Linked DNA regions of Homo sapiens. Each later gene encodes a partner of the first gene's protein in a complex. Links are inferred from orthologs where the notes say so. Each region holds a gene or a part of one and is shown on either strand. Other genes may lie near its edges.

Evidence for each region.
Region 2: the proteins of CSF1R (region 1) and CSF1 are in contact, whole or in part, in a crystal structure (PDB 3EJJ), measured with the Mus musculus proteins. The link is inferred for Homo sapiens from one-to-one orthologs. Residues at the interface, in NP_001032948.2 of Mus musculus: Arg142, Arg146, Leu149, Arg150, Lys151, Lys168, Val169, Leu170, Ser172, Asn173, Val231, Gly232, Phe233, Leu248, Ser250, Asp251, Phe252, Asp254, Asn255, Tyr257, Lys259; in NP_001107002.1 of Mus musculus: His38, His41, Met42, Gly44, Asn45, Gly46, His47, Phe87, Gln90, Asp91, Asp94, Arg98, Asp101, Glu110, Arg111, Gln113, Glu114, Leu115, Asn117.

What each region holds. Positions count from the first base shown.
Region 1 is NC_000005.10:150,083,297-150,091,450, forward strand, and holds the start of CSF1R (macrophage colony-stimulating factor 1 receptor isoform a precursor), read right to left. Parts: upstream 3,259-8,154; 5' UTR 3,132-3,258; coding exon 3,083-3,131; intron 1-3,082. UniProt on the Homo sapiens protein: Tyrosine-protein kinase that acts as a cell-surface receptor for CSF1 and IL34 and plays an essential role in the regulation of survival, proliferation and differentiation of hematopoietic precursor cells, especially mononuclear phagocytes, such as macrophages and monocytes.
Region 2 is NC_000001.11:109,927,616-109,931,545, reverse strand, and holds the end of CSF1 (macrophage colony-stimulating factor 1 isoform a precursor), read right to left. Parts: intron 2,695-3,930; 3' UTR 554-2,694; downstream 1-553. UniProt on the Homo sapiens protein: Cytokine that plays an essential role in the regulation of survival, proliferation and differentiation of hematopoietic precursor cells, especially mononuclear phagocytes, such as macrophages and monocytes.

The DNA.
Region 1 (8,154 bases):
GCCCCTCCCTCATCACTTCCAGAATGTGCCCCAATCTCTACTCTTCTCTCCCAACACACACACACACACACACACACACACACACACACACACACACACACACACTGCACACTAAGGCTGGACACAGCCCCTCTTCAGCCCAGGATCTCATCGCAGTAATGAAGAGAGAGCCCCCCTCTCTCTCTAGGGTCCTCCAATACCATCCCCAGTCTCCTCACAGTGGCCCCTCATCCACTCATCATTGGTCTGTTGGGCTGAAAACTTAGGTTTCCAGCCTCCCCATCTCTTCTTTCTCTTGGGACTGGACCCTGGAAAACCATCTGGCCCCCCTCCCACACACCATGCCCCTGTGAAGGGAAAATAAAAACTTGGGACCCTAATTCACTCTGCCAAAAGGAAAAATCAAGCTGGAAACTGAGTCATGCAAGAAGCTGCCTTGCCTTTTATTCCTAAGCAGATAGCGACAGATAAAAGGTAAAATATCCCACAGGCAGCTCCTCTATGTTCACTTTCCCTATGTAAAGAGCCAATTTACTGAACCGAGATAATTGACTGTTCCCCTACCTGCTGCTTTTCTTTTGCAACATGTGGATTACCACAACCTCCCCTTTTCCCCTCCAGCCCACTTTCCCCTTTAAATATTAAAGCCCTCGAATTCATCCAGAATGGCACAGACCACAGAATGTTTTTGTGACTCCATGTTTTTTTCTCGCCAGCATGTCCTTAACCTTGGCAAAATAAACTTCTAAATTGATTGAAGCCAGGCACAGTGGCTCATGCCTGTAATCCCAGCACTTTGGGACGCCAAGGCAGGGGGATCGCTTGAGTTCAGGAGTTCGAGACCAGCATGGCCAGCATGATAAAACCCTGTCTCTACCAAAAATAAAAAAATTAGCTGGGTGTGGTGGCAGGCACCAGTAATCACAGCTACTCAGGAGTGGCAGAATTGCTTGAACCCCGGAGGCGGAGGTTGCAGTGAGCCGAGATCCATGCCATTGCACTCCAGCCTGGGCAACAGAGCAAGACTCGGTCTCAAAAAGATAGAAAAAAGAAAGAAAGAAAGAAAGAAAGAAAGAAAGAAAGAAAGAAAGAAAGAAGGAAGGAAGGAAGGAAGGAAGGAAGGAAGGAAGGAAGGAAGGAAGGAAGGAAGGAAGGAAGGAAGAAAGAAAGGAAGGAGATGGAGTCTTGCTCTGTCGCCTAGGCTGGAGTGCAGTGGCATGATCTCAGCTCACTGCAACCTCTGCCTCCCGGGTTCAAGTGATTCTCCCACCTCAGCCTCCTGAGTAGCTGGAACTACAGGAACCCACCACCACACCCGGCTAATTTTTGTATTTTTTAGTAGAGAGGGGGCTTCACCATATTGGCGAGGCTGGTCTGAAACTCCTGATCTTGTGATCCACCCGCCTCGGCCTCCCAGAGTGCTGGGATTACAGGTGTGAGCCACCATGCCTGGCCACAAGACTCCATCTCAATAAAAAAAATAAAATTAAATTGAGACCTGGCTCAGATACTTTTCCGTTTTTGCCCCACAGGCAGGTTGTGGGTGTAAGGATAGGACAAGGCAGTGAAATCAAACCTGTGGGACTCTCTGAGATGAAGGGGGTGGCGGGTACACTGTGTGTGCATTTGTCAGACCTCATTGAACTTAAGAACCTGTGCTTTCTACTGCATGTAAGTTACATTGCAAAATAAGAAGTCCAGGCCGGGCGCCGTGACTCACACCAGTAATCCCAACACTTTGGGAGGCCAAGGCAGGTGGATCACCTGAGGTCAGGAGTTCGAGACCAGCTTGGCCAACATGGTGAAATCCCATCTCTACTAAAAATACAAAAATTAGCCAGTCATGATGGTGTATGCCTGTAATCCCAGCTTGGGAGGCTGAGACAGGAGAAACACTTGAACCCGGGAGGTGGAGGTTGCAGTGAGCCGAGATTGTGCCACTGTACTCCAGCCTGGTGACAGAGAGAGACTCTGTCTCAGGAAAAAAAAAAAAAAAACCCAAATACTCAAGCTCAGTGTGATTGCCTGGGCCAGAGAAGGATGGTCAGTGGGCCATCTCCTCCTCATCAGGGACCAGAAGCGCCACGGCCTTAGGGTCCTTCTGTGAAGAGGCCAGTATGAGGCTGTCCTTTCTCCCCTTCAATCCCCATCCTCCCCCAAGGTCCCTTTGAATAAGCAGGCAATAGAAATGTGTTTGTTGGGCCAACAAGCCAAGCACAGCAGCCCCTCACCTCTAGTCATGTTCCCTCCCAGATGGAAATTCTGCAGAACTGCTACAGCCTGGGGACCTCCTGAGACTTGGCAGCCTGTGTCTGGGAGGGCTCTGGTCCAGGAGACCCTCACTGGCCTCTTCCCAATCCCTCCTCTAGCCCTATACCTATTTCACCCCGAATTCCCCTCTCCTGAGCCCTGGGCCAGAGAGGCCAACCTCTTGTCTCTCCCCTCTGACCCCTTACACAAGCCACCCAAGGAAGAACCACCACCCCTATCAGGCCCTTCCAAATCAGATCTTGCATAGAATCATCGAATCACAGGCTGGCAGAGCTGCCAGAGCCATCAGGAGCTCTCCAGGTCCTCCCAACTCAGTGTAGGTCTGGACCAGCAGTGCCGGCATCTCACATCTCCCAGGAGTGTGTTGGATATACAGAATCTCAGGTCGCACCTGAGACCGACTGAGTCTGAATCTGCATTGTAACAAAATCCTCAGGTAACTTGTATGCACAGGAAAGTATGAAAAGCACTGCTCTGGTCTAGTCTATCACTGTCCCCCTGCCCCCAACACCTGCAATTGAATAGAAGTGGACACTGAAGCCTCAAGAGTATCAGAGGCTTGCTCAGGACACACAGTGAGTCGCTGGCAGAGCTGGGACAGATCCACAGCACCAGGTGGACCAGTTCCACCACACCCATCTCTTTTCACCCCACTACCTCTCCAAAGCAGATACCCACAAGCCTGCAGTCCAGTGTTGGGGAGACTAAAACAGCCTGAGGACACCCAGTGAGGGGCAAGGACTGAATCCTTTCACAGGGGTCTTCTCCATCACACCCCAACAAAGTCCCCCACCCCCCGTTCTGCTCTTACCATGCCAAGCTGTGGCCACCAGCAGGAGCAGCAGAACTCCTGGGCCCATGGCCTCGGTGGGGAAGTGGCAGGCAGGTGCAGGGCTGCAAGGTGCCCAGGGCACAGAGCTCTCAGCTACTAGCTCCGCAGGGATCGGGACACTGGACACACGTTCCTCTCCTCTGCACTGGCTGTTTGTCTTGTTTTCCTCTTCCTCCTCCTTGGGCTGATCCTCTTCTTCCCCTTTTAGCTAGGCAAGGCAACCACAGAGTTTGGAAATCTTGGGTCTTTAAGAAGAAAACAAAGCCTTGAACCCAAGAGGGAGGGGTCGCAGTCTGGGGCAGGGCCAGCCTGAGCTTGGGGGGAGCTAGCTAAGTTTGGGGCCCTTCTAAAGCCATCTTCAAGGGGTCTTGGGAGAAGAGACATGTCCAAGAGCAGCCAGACCGTTAGTCAGTAGCACAAATGAGGGTCTTCAGAGTGATCAGGTGGCTCTGGCAGATCCCAAAGAGAAGTTAGGTTGCATGATATTGTGACATATATATTTTTTCTTTACCCTGATGTCCTGGCTTACAACTCCTAAAATCCTTGGAATCTCCAAAGTAATGCATATCTTTTAAAAATTTATTATTATTATTTTAGAGACGCAGTTTCACTCTGTTGCCCAGGCTGGAGCTCTGTGGCTCGATCATAGCTCACTGCAGCCTCAAACTCCTGGCTCAAGCCTTCAAGCTGTGAGATCTGACGTTATCTCTAGGTAAATATAGTGTTCAAATTGAATCGGAGGGCACCAGATTCGTGTCTGCTGCAGAATCTGAACAATTGGTTGATTGCTTGGTGTATGGGGAAATATGCCCCATCCTCTACATCTGGGGTCAGAAGTATTTTGTGTTGTGAGACTATAGGAGAAACGGAGTTTGTTTTCTTCCTGTATACAGGTTGGTCTGGGAGAGCCTGATAATATTGGCAATAAGCTTCCTTTTACAGGACATTTACTAGCCAAACCTTTTACATTCACTGTCTCCTTTAGTACTGCAAAACTTTATGTAGGTAAGTACTATTGTCATTCTCATTTCACAGATGGGAAAACTAAAGCTCAGAGAGATCAAATGCCTTAAGCTTGTCCATAGTCAAACAGCTACCAAATGGTGGAGATAGGATTTGGATCCCAGCAGTCTGGTTATAAAACTATCTTTTGTGCGTTACTTACATTGTTTATTTATTTTTACAAAGAATCTAATTGTTCTGCATAATTCTTAAAATATATAGCATTCCTTTGCTCCCTCTTTTCCTGGAGGCAATTGCTTTTACCTCTTTTAGTTGATTCGCTTAGTATTTTACTTCTTATCTCTAAAGAACATGGTCATTTCTTCTTCTTTTTTTCTTTTTTTTTTTCTGAGACAGGGTTTGGTTCTGTCACCCAGGCTGGAGTGCAGTAGTGTGATCTCGGCTCACTGCAACCTCCACCTCCCGGACTCAAGCCATCCTCCTACCTCATCCTCCTGAGTAGTTGGGACTACAGGGGCATGTGCCACCATTCCTAGCAAATTTCTGTATTTTTGGTAGACATGGGGTTTCACCATGTTGTCCAGGCTGGTCTCAAACCCCTGAGCTCAAGTGATTCGCATACCTTGGCTTCCCAAAGTACTGGGATTATAGGTATGAGCCACTATACCCAGCCTAAAGTTCCTTCTTGAAATTGAAAAATCCTGATATAACATTGATCCAGGAAAATGATCATTCCCGTGTACTCAGGTGTGTGTGTGGTGTGTATGTGTGTGTTTGTATGTATATTTATGAGTGTATATATGTACTTTCTTTTTCAGAAAAGTGTTTTGAACCTTTAGCAATCATGAATGTCAATCAAAGCTGACTCAAGAAGAAAAAGAAAATCCAAATAAACCTATAACAAGAAAAGAAATTTAATCAGTAATCAAAAACCTCCCGACAAAGCAAAGCCCAGGACCAGATGGCTTCACTGGTGAATTCTCCCAAACATTTAAAGAAGAATTAATACCAATCCTTTTCAACTCATTCTATGAAGCCAGCATTTTTCTGGTACCAAAGCTAGACCAAGACATTGCCAGAAAAGATAACTACAGACCAATACAAATGCATGAATATAGAAAGCAAAAATTTTCAAAAATGTACTAGCAAACCAAATCTTTTTTTTTTTTTCTTTCTTTCTTTCTTTTTTGAGACAGGGTCTCACTCTGTCACTCAGGCTGGAGTGCAGTGGAGCAATCTCGGCTCACTGCAACCTCTGCCTCCCGCGTTCAAGCTATTCTCGTGCCTCAAACTCCCGAGTAGCTGGGATTACAGGCATGCGCCACCATGCCCAGCTAATTTTTGTATTTTTAGTAGAGACAGGGTTTCACCATGTTGGCCAGGCTAGTCTTGAACTCCTGACCTCAAGCAGTCTGCCCATCTTGGCCTCCCAAAGTGTTGGGATTACAGGCGTGAGCCACTGCACCCAGCCACCAGCAAACCAAATCTAACAGCATATTAAAATGATTATATACCATGATGAAGTGGGATTTGTCCAAGAAATACAACAGTGGTTTAACACATGAAAATCAGGGTAATACATCACATTAATAGAATGAAAAAAATCCTCATATGATCATGTCACTTGATGTAACTGTAAAACCCAACATGCTTTCATTAAAAACAAAACAAAACAAAACCCACCCAACAAACTAGCAATAAAAGGGAACAGCCTCAACGTGATTAAGGGCACATGTGAAAAAGCACAACTAATTCAATGGTAAAAGACTGAGAGCTGGTCCCTTTACATCAGGAACAAGACAAAGATGCCTGTTCTCGCCACTTCTGTTCAACATAGTACTGGAAGTCCTAGCCAGAGCAATCAGGAAGAAAAAGAAACAGAAGGCATCCAAATTAAAAAAGAAGAAGTAAAACTATCTCTGTTCACAGATGACATGATCCTATATATAGATAAATCCTAAAAGATCTACAAAAAGCAACTATTAGAGTTAATATACAAATTCAGCAAACCTGCAGGATACAAGATCAACATACGTAACTCTATAGTACTGATAATACTCCAATAAGGAAATTAAGAAAACAATTTAATTTGCAATAGTATCAAAAATAAAATATTTTGGAATAAACTAAGGAGATGCATGACTTTACAATGAAAACTACAAAACACTGTTGAAAGAAATTTAGAAGACCTTAATAAATGAAAAACCACCTTGTTTTCATAAGTTGGAGGATTTAATAAGACAGCGGTACTCTCAAAGTGAGACTGATTTATAGGGTCAATATAATCCCTATCAAAATCCCAACAGCCTTTTTCTGCAGAAATGGAAAAGCTGATTCTCAAATTCATATGGAATCTCGAGGGACATTGAATATGCAAAACAATCTTGGAGGAGTCACACTTTTCAATTTCAAAACCTACTATAAAACTACAGAAATCAAAATAGTGTGGTATCAGCATAAGAATAACTATATGGATCAATAGAATAAAATTGAGAGTCAGGAAGTAAACTCTCACATTCATGGACAACTGATATTCAACAAGGGTGGCAGGACCATCCAATGGAGAATGACCAGTTTTTTCAACATAGGTGCTAAAAGAACTAGATAGTCACATGCAGAAGAATGAAGTTGAATCCTTATTTTACATCACATATAAAAATTAACTCAAAATGAATTAAAGACCTAAATATAAAAGCTAAAATTATTAAAACCTTAAAAGAAACCATAAAGGTAATATTCATGACCTTGGAATTGGAAATGATTTCTCAGATATGTTTCTAAAAGCACAAGCAACCAAAGAAAAATTGGACATAATAAAAATTAAACATTTTTGTGCATCAAAGGACACTGTCAAGAGAATAAAAACACACAGAATGAATATTTATATCCACAATAAATAAATATATCCAGAATATATACAGAATGAAAGTTGTAGTGTTTCCTCAGCAAAAATCACTCTTGGTGCATAGTTCTATGAGTTTTGACAAATATATATAACAATGTAACCACCACTGTAGTCAAGATATAGAACAGCTCCATCACTCTAGAAAATGTTTCTCATGCTGCTCCTTTATAGTAAAGCCCTCCCCAAACCCCTTACACCAAACAACCACGGATCTGTTCTCCATCCCTGCAGTTTTGCCTTTTCCACAATGTCTTTGTGCTTTACAGGATAATGTCATATAAATGGAATCATACAGTGTGTAGCTAAAGAATGTATGTAGAATCACGCAATATGTAGCTAAAGCCACTCTATTGTCCCTCACAATTAATAAATATTTATGGGAAAATAAATTTTAAAAAAGAATGAAAGTTGTAGTGTTGCCTACAACAACAAAAAAACAATTAAATTTAAAAATAGGCAAATTCAAATATTGCATGTCCTCACTTATAAGTGGAAGCCAAACAAAGGGTCCACACGGATATAAAGATGGAAAGAATAGACTCCAAAAGTGGAAGGATAGAAGGAAAGGGGAAAGGGCAAAAAGGAAGTGAAAAATTACCTATTGGGTACAGTGTTCAGTATTTGGGTACTGGGTACACTGGAAGCCAAATTCACCATTATGCAATGTACCCATGTAATAAACATGCACATCTACTCCCGAGTCTAAAATAATTTTTTTAAAAAACAGGCAAAACATTGAATAGATATTTCTCCAGAGCACATGAAAAAATACTCAATATCATTAGTCATTAGGGAAGTGCAAATCAGAACCACCTTGAGATACCACTTCATATCTACTAGGATCATCATAATAAAAAAAATCGGATAACAAGTGTTGGTGAGGATGTGGAGAAATTGGAACCTTTGTACAATGTTGGTGAAAATGAAAAATGGTGCAGCTGCTATGGTAATCAGTTTGACAATTCCTCAAAAAGTTAAACATAGAATTGTCATATGATCCAGAAATATCACTTCTAGGTAAAACCAAAAGAATGGAAAACAGGGACCCAAATAAATACATGCACGCAAATATTCAACGCAGCACAATTTACAGTAGCCAAAAGGTGGAAACAGTTGACAGCTAAACAAAATGTGGTGTGTCCATACAATTGAATATTATTCAGCTATAAAGGGAATGAAATAC
Region 2 (3,930 bases), on another chromosome or scaffold:
CCTGCCTAACACCCCTCTCCCCATGGAAAGCCACACCCTCAGTCTCCTCTCCAGCTCCAGTAGGAAGGTCGAGCCCGAACGAGGGCCCTTACACGGACTCCTGGCTCTCCCCTGCTAACCACACTCACTTCCCAGCCTGGAAACAGAATTCATTCACCTCAGAGTCTGCAAGGACCTAGCCAGCAACCTCTGCCCTGGTCAGCAGGGCTCAGCAGTCAAGGAGCCTTATCCTTGCAGGCCGCCGGGGCCCTTGGACAGAGCCCAACCAGCCATTTTCCCAGGCTGGGCTAGGCTGGGCAGGAGCAGGGGCCAGTGACCAGGCCTGATGTTTGGCCACTTTCTGCCCAATACGAGCAGATATGCAGATGAATGTGTTTGGGACAGCAATAATACAGGAGGTTTTGGTACCAAGACTGAAACTTGGAGAGAACCTTCCTCCCCTGTGTTTTGTGGAAAAAGGTTCTCTGAGCTGGGGTTCATCCGGCAACTGCTGCCCACCCACCCTGATGTTTGCCACCCACACCCCAAAAGCAACTTTCCCACGACTCACATGGCAGCTTGTGCACTTCTTTTATTATTAAATATATAAGCAGCTTCCTATCTTTTAAATAGATATTTAAATGACTTTATATAAAATAATTCACCACTTCCAAGTATAAAAACAAAATCTCACAGTGCGTGAGCCAATGTCCTCTCTTGACTTCTCAGAGAACAGAAGGGGTTCCTGAGCAGGTAGCCTGGGGGGACACCAGAGGTGGCTCTGGGGCTCCTCCTGCTCTGATGCCACCAAGTGCTCAAAAAGAGCTTCTGCAGTGGGTTGGATTGCTTTTTTGACCTTTAAAATATTATATGTTTAAGGTAGGGGGATGAAGGGGGAATGCCTTTTTATTTTTCTTCCATTTAAAAATATGTGTTTTCTAGCATCAAATATAGAGGCTGTGACTAGAAGGCTAAGCCCCATATGCAAGTTCACTGCCCTTCCCTAAGCTGTCGGCATCAGGACAGGGAAGGTGGGGCCAGCCGACCCTCACTTTCCTGGGCAGGAAGGGAAAGTCACGGGGCCCAGCGGCCAGGTAGGGCAGGGTCTCTTAGCGGAGGACAAAGGGCGGCAGGAGAGGAGGCACACAGCAGCACAAAGGAACCCAGGGGCAACTGGCAGCCCTGTCGCTCGTTGCCTAGGCCTCAGAGCCACCACCACAGGCTGGCCACAAAGTGGAGGCCCTCCAGGCATTGGAAGCTGAGGCCTGGCTCTCCTGATTGCTCTCCCACCCTGGCTTGCCTGGTTAGAGGTGATGGTAGAGGGGGTGGGTGAGAGTTGGAGGTCATCACTGCTGACCAAGGTCAGGAGGAAAGAAGGGTGAGAAGTGGATGGGAGCTGGATACCATGCAGGTGGGGCTGAGATGCAGCCCAGTCCAGGGCTCCTGACAGGGATAACCTGTTCAGCCCCAGGTTCCTGTCGGCAGCAGGGAAAGGACACTGCGCTGGGGTTTGGGAGTGCAGACCCTCCCCCAACCTCAGGTGCATACCTATATTTCAAAGGCCCATCTTCAGTCAGAGCTCGCCCTGTAGCCTCTCTGTCTGTGCCCTCCCCTCCCTTGCTCTCTCCCACTAGTCCCTTCCCTCTTGGGAATGTCAAAGTGCAAGATGCAGAAACCTGGGCGAACAACACAGCCTAAAGACCGGCTCTGGCTGGCGGCCCAGGAGGTTCTCCCACCCCACTCCACTCCGGGGAGTCAAAGGCCAGGTCAGGAGAAGGTCAGGGCTGAGGGGCTCCCTCAGTCGACTGGTGAGGCCAGCTCAGTGCAGGAGGCTGGGGAGAGGCTGGAGAGTGGAGGACGGACGGATGCTGGCTCATGGATGGACGGGGGCAGGCTGTTCAGCAGGCAGGTACAGTGTTCACAGTGCAATGGCTTCCTTCATGAGGGGAGCCTCTGCTTGGCCTCCTGGAGAAGCTCTGGCAGGTGCTGGAAGGAGGAGGGGCAGAGGCCAGTGCTTGATCCCCCTCTTGGCATCACTGGCAGGTCAGGCAGGTCCTGAGGGCAGGGCTGGCCTCCCCTCTGCGCCTGGCAACCAGCACAGGGCACTTAGGTGAGCCGAGGGTGTAGACCCTTCAGGCTGTCAGTGCAGACCAGCAGGTCCAGAGGCCTCCTCTTCCCGTCTCTCAGGCTGCACACCTTTACGGGAAATCAGGCCGACGCTGTCCCGCCCCACGAACTTCAGGCTCCTCTCTCTGGAGACAGGTCCATGCCTGTCCAGGCTGGGATACCTTGGCACCAGGCAGGCCCTCTGGGTGCAGGGTTCTTTCACTCCTCAGCGTCCACCCTGCTTTCCCACAAACCACAGGCCGGTGGGTCCCTGGCCTGGGTTCCGGCATGGAAGGGAGTGAGAGGAGGGTGCAGCCCCTGAGGGAAGAGGGTCCTGAGCCGGGCTCACCAGCCTTCCTCAAGCACATGGGAGCCTCCAGGGCTCACAATAAATAGTGGCAGCATGGGGAGCATCCTCTGGCCTCTCTCATTCAGTCAAGGGTCTGCGGGTTGAGACAGAGGGGCCCCAGCCTGGCTGCTCTGGTCCAGTCCTGGCAGGCAGGAGCTCTGGTGGAGGGCAGACCACATTCCAGGAGGATGGCCAGGGAGGGGTGGTGGTGGACGCCCCATAATGTCTCCTCCCACGGAGAGACTGTTCTGTGCGTCCAGCTGTGGGAGAGAAGGAAAGGCTAGTCAGCAGAGTGGGAATGCGGGGAGGGTCGTTGAGGACATGGATTGGGAGGTGTGGCATTCCTGTGGGCTGCTGGCGGTGCTGCAGGCAGGACTTCCTTTCCTCCCTTCCCTGGCCTTTCCAGACACCACAGAGAGACCAGGCAGCTTTCTCTGGCACCAGCCCAGGCCTCTGGCCCAACTGGCCTCACCTCCTACCTCCTCCTGGGGAATCAGGGCCTCAGTGGAAGATAACGGGGCCCGGGAGAGGTCTGGGCAGGGCTGGGAAGAGGGGTTACTGCTCAAGCAGAGGGCTCTGACAAGGAGCGAAGCGGGCACTTGAATGTCTTTGGACCCCTCCTCAGGCGAGGTCATCTCATTGGCCTTGGTCCAGTGAACAAAGGGTGATTCCTGCTAACACTAGCAAAGAAGAATCTTTCATTTCATCAGAGGGGCATCACATATGATGTTCAAGACAGTAGGGCAGAGCTAGCTGAAGAGGAACAACTTGGGCCAGAGAGGAAAAGTCTAGAGGCAGTGCCAGGACAAGGAAATTCCCACACTGTCATTTGGCACGCGACCCCTAAGCAACCCAGCCCCTCCTGGATGGGCCGAGGGCCTTGCCTCCCGCATCATCCATGGGAGTCAGGGCCTTGTCCTCTCGCCTTCCACCCCCATCCTTGTCCTCTTGCCCAGCATCCTCAGGACGCTTTGTTCCCAGAGCAGAAATCCCCTGGACCCCATCCAACAGTTTGACTTTGGACCTTGTGTGGAGCCTCCCTCCCTAACATCCATAGGCCCTACTGGGTAAGGAGGGAAGATGGAACCACAGCCTCTGGCTCCCTGCCCATTCCCATGCTCTAGAGGGAAAGAAGGGGAACCATAAACTGGACATGAGCCATGCTGGGTACAGCCAGGCCACAGGCCCAGCTAGGGCCCAGGAGGGGAGAAGGACCCAGTGAGCGAGTTCCAGCCTGCTGCCCCATCTTCTAGCTGCTTAGGGCTGAGGTGCTGGTGTCTGCATTTTCTGTGGCTCTGAGTCCCTATCTCAGTCTCTGCCTCTATGTTTCTCTCTCTCACTTCTCAAATCACAGCAGCAGTCACTCTAGGGGCTGGCACTCAATCTCTCCAAGGCCACTGGTGCCTGGCCTGGAGACCACCTTAGGGCTGGACCTGCCGGGCCAAGTGGGATCTGGATGTAGCCCCTGCCCTGGATTCCCTCTCCAAGTGAAATCT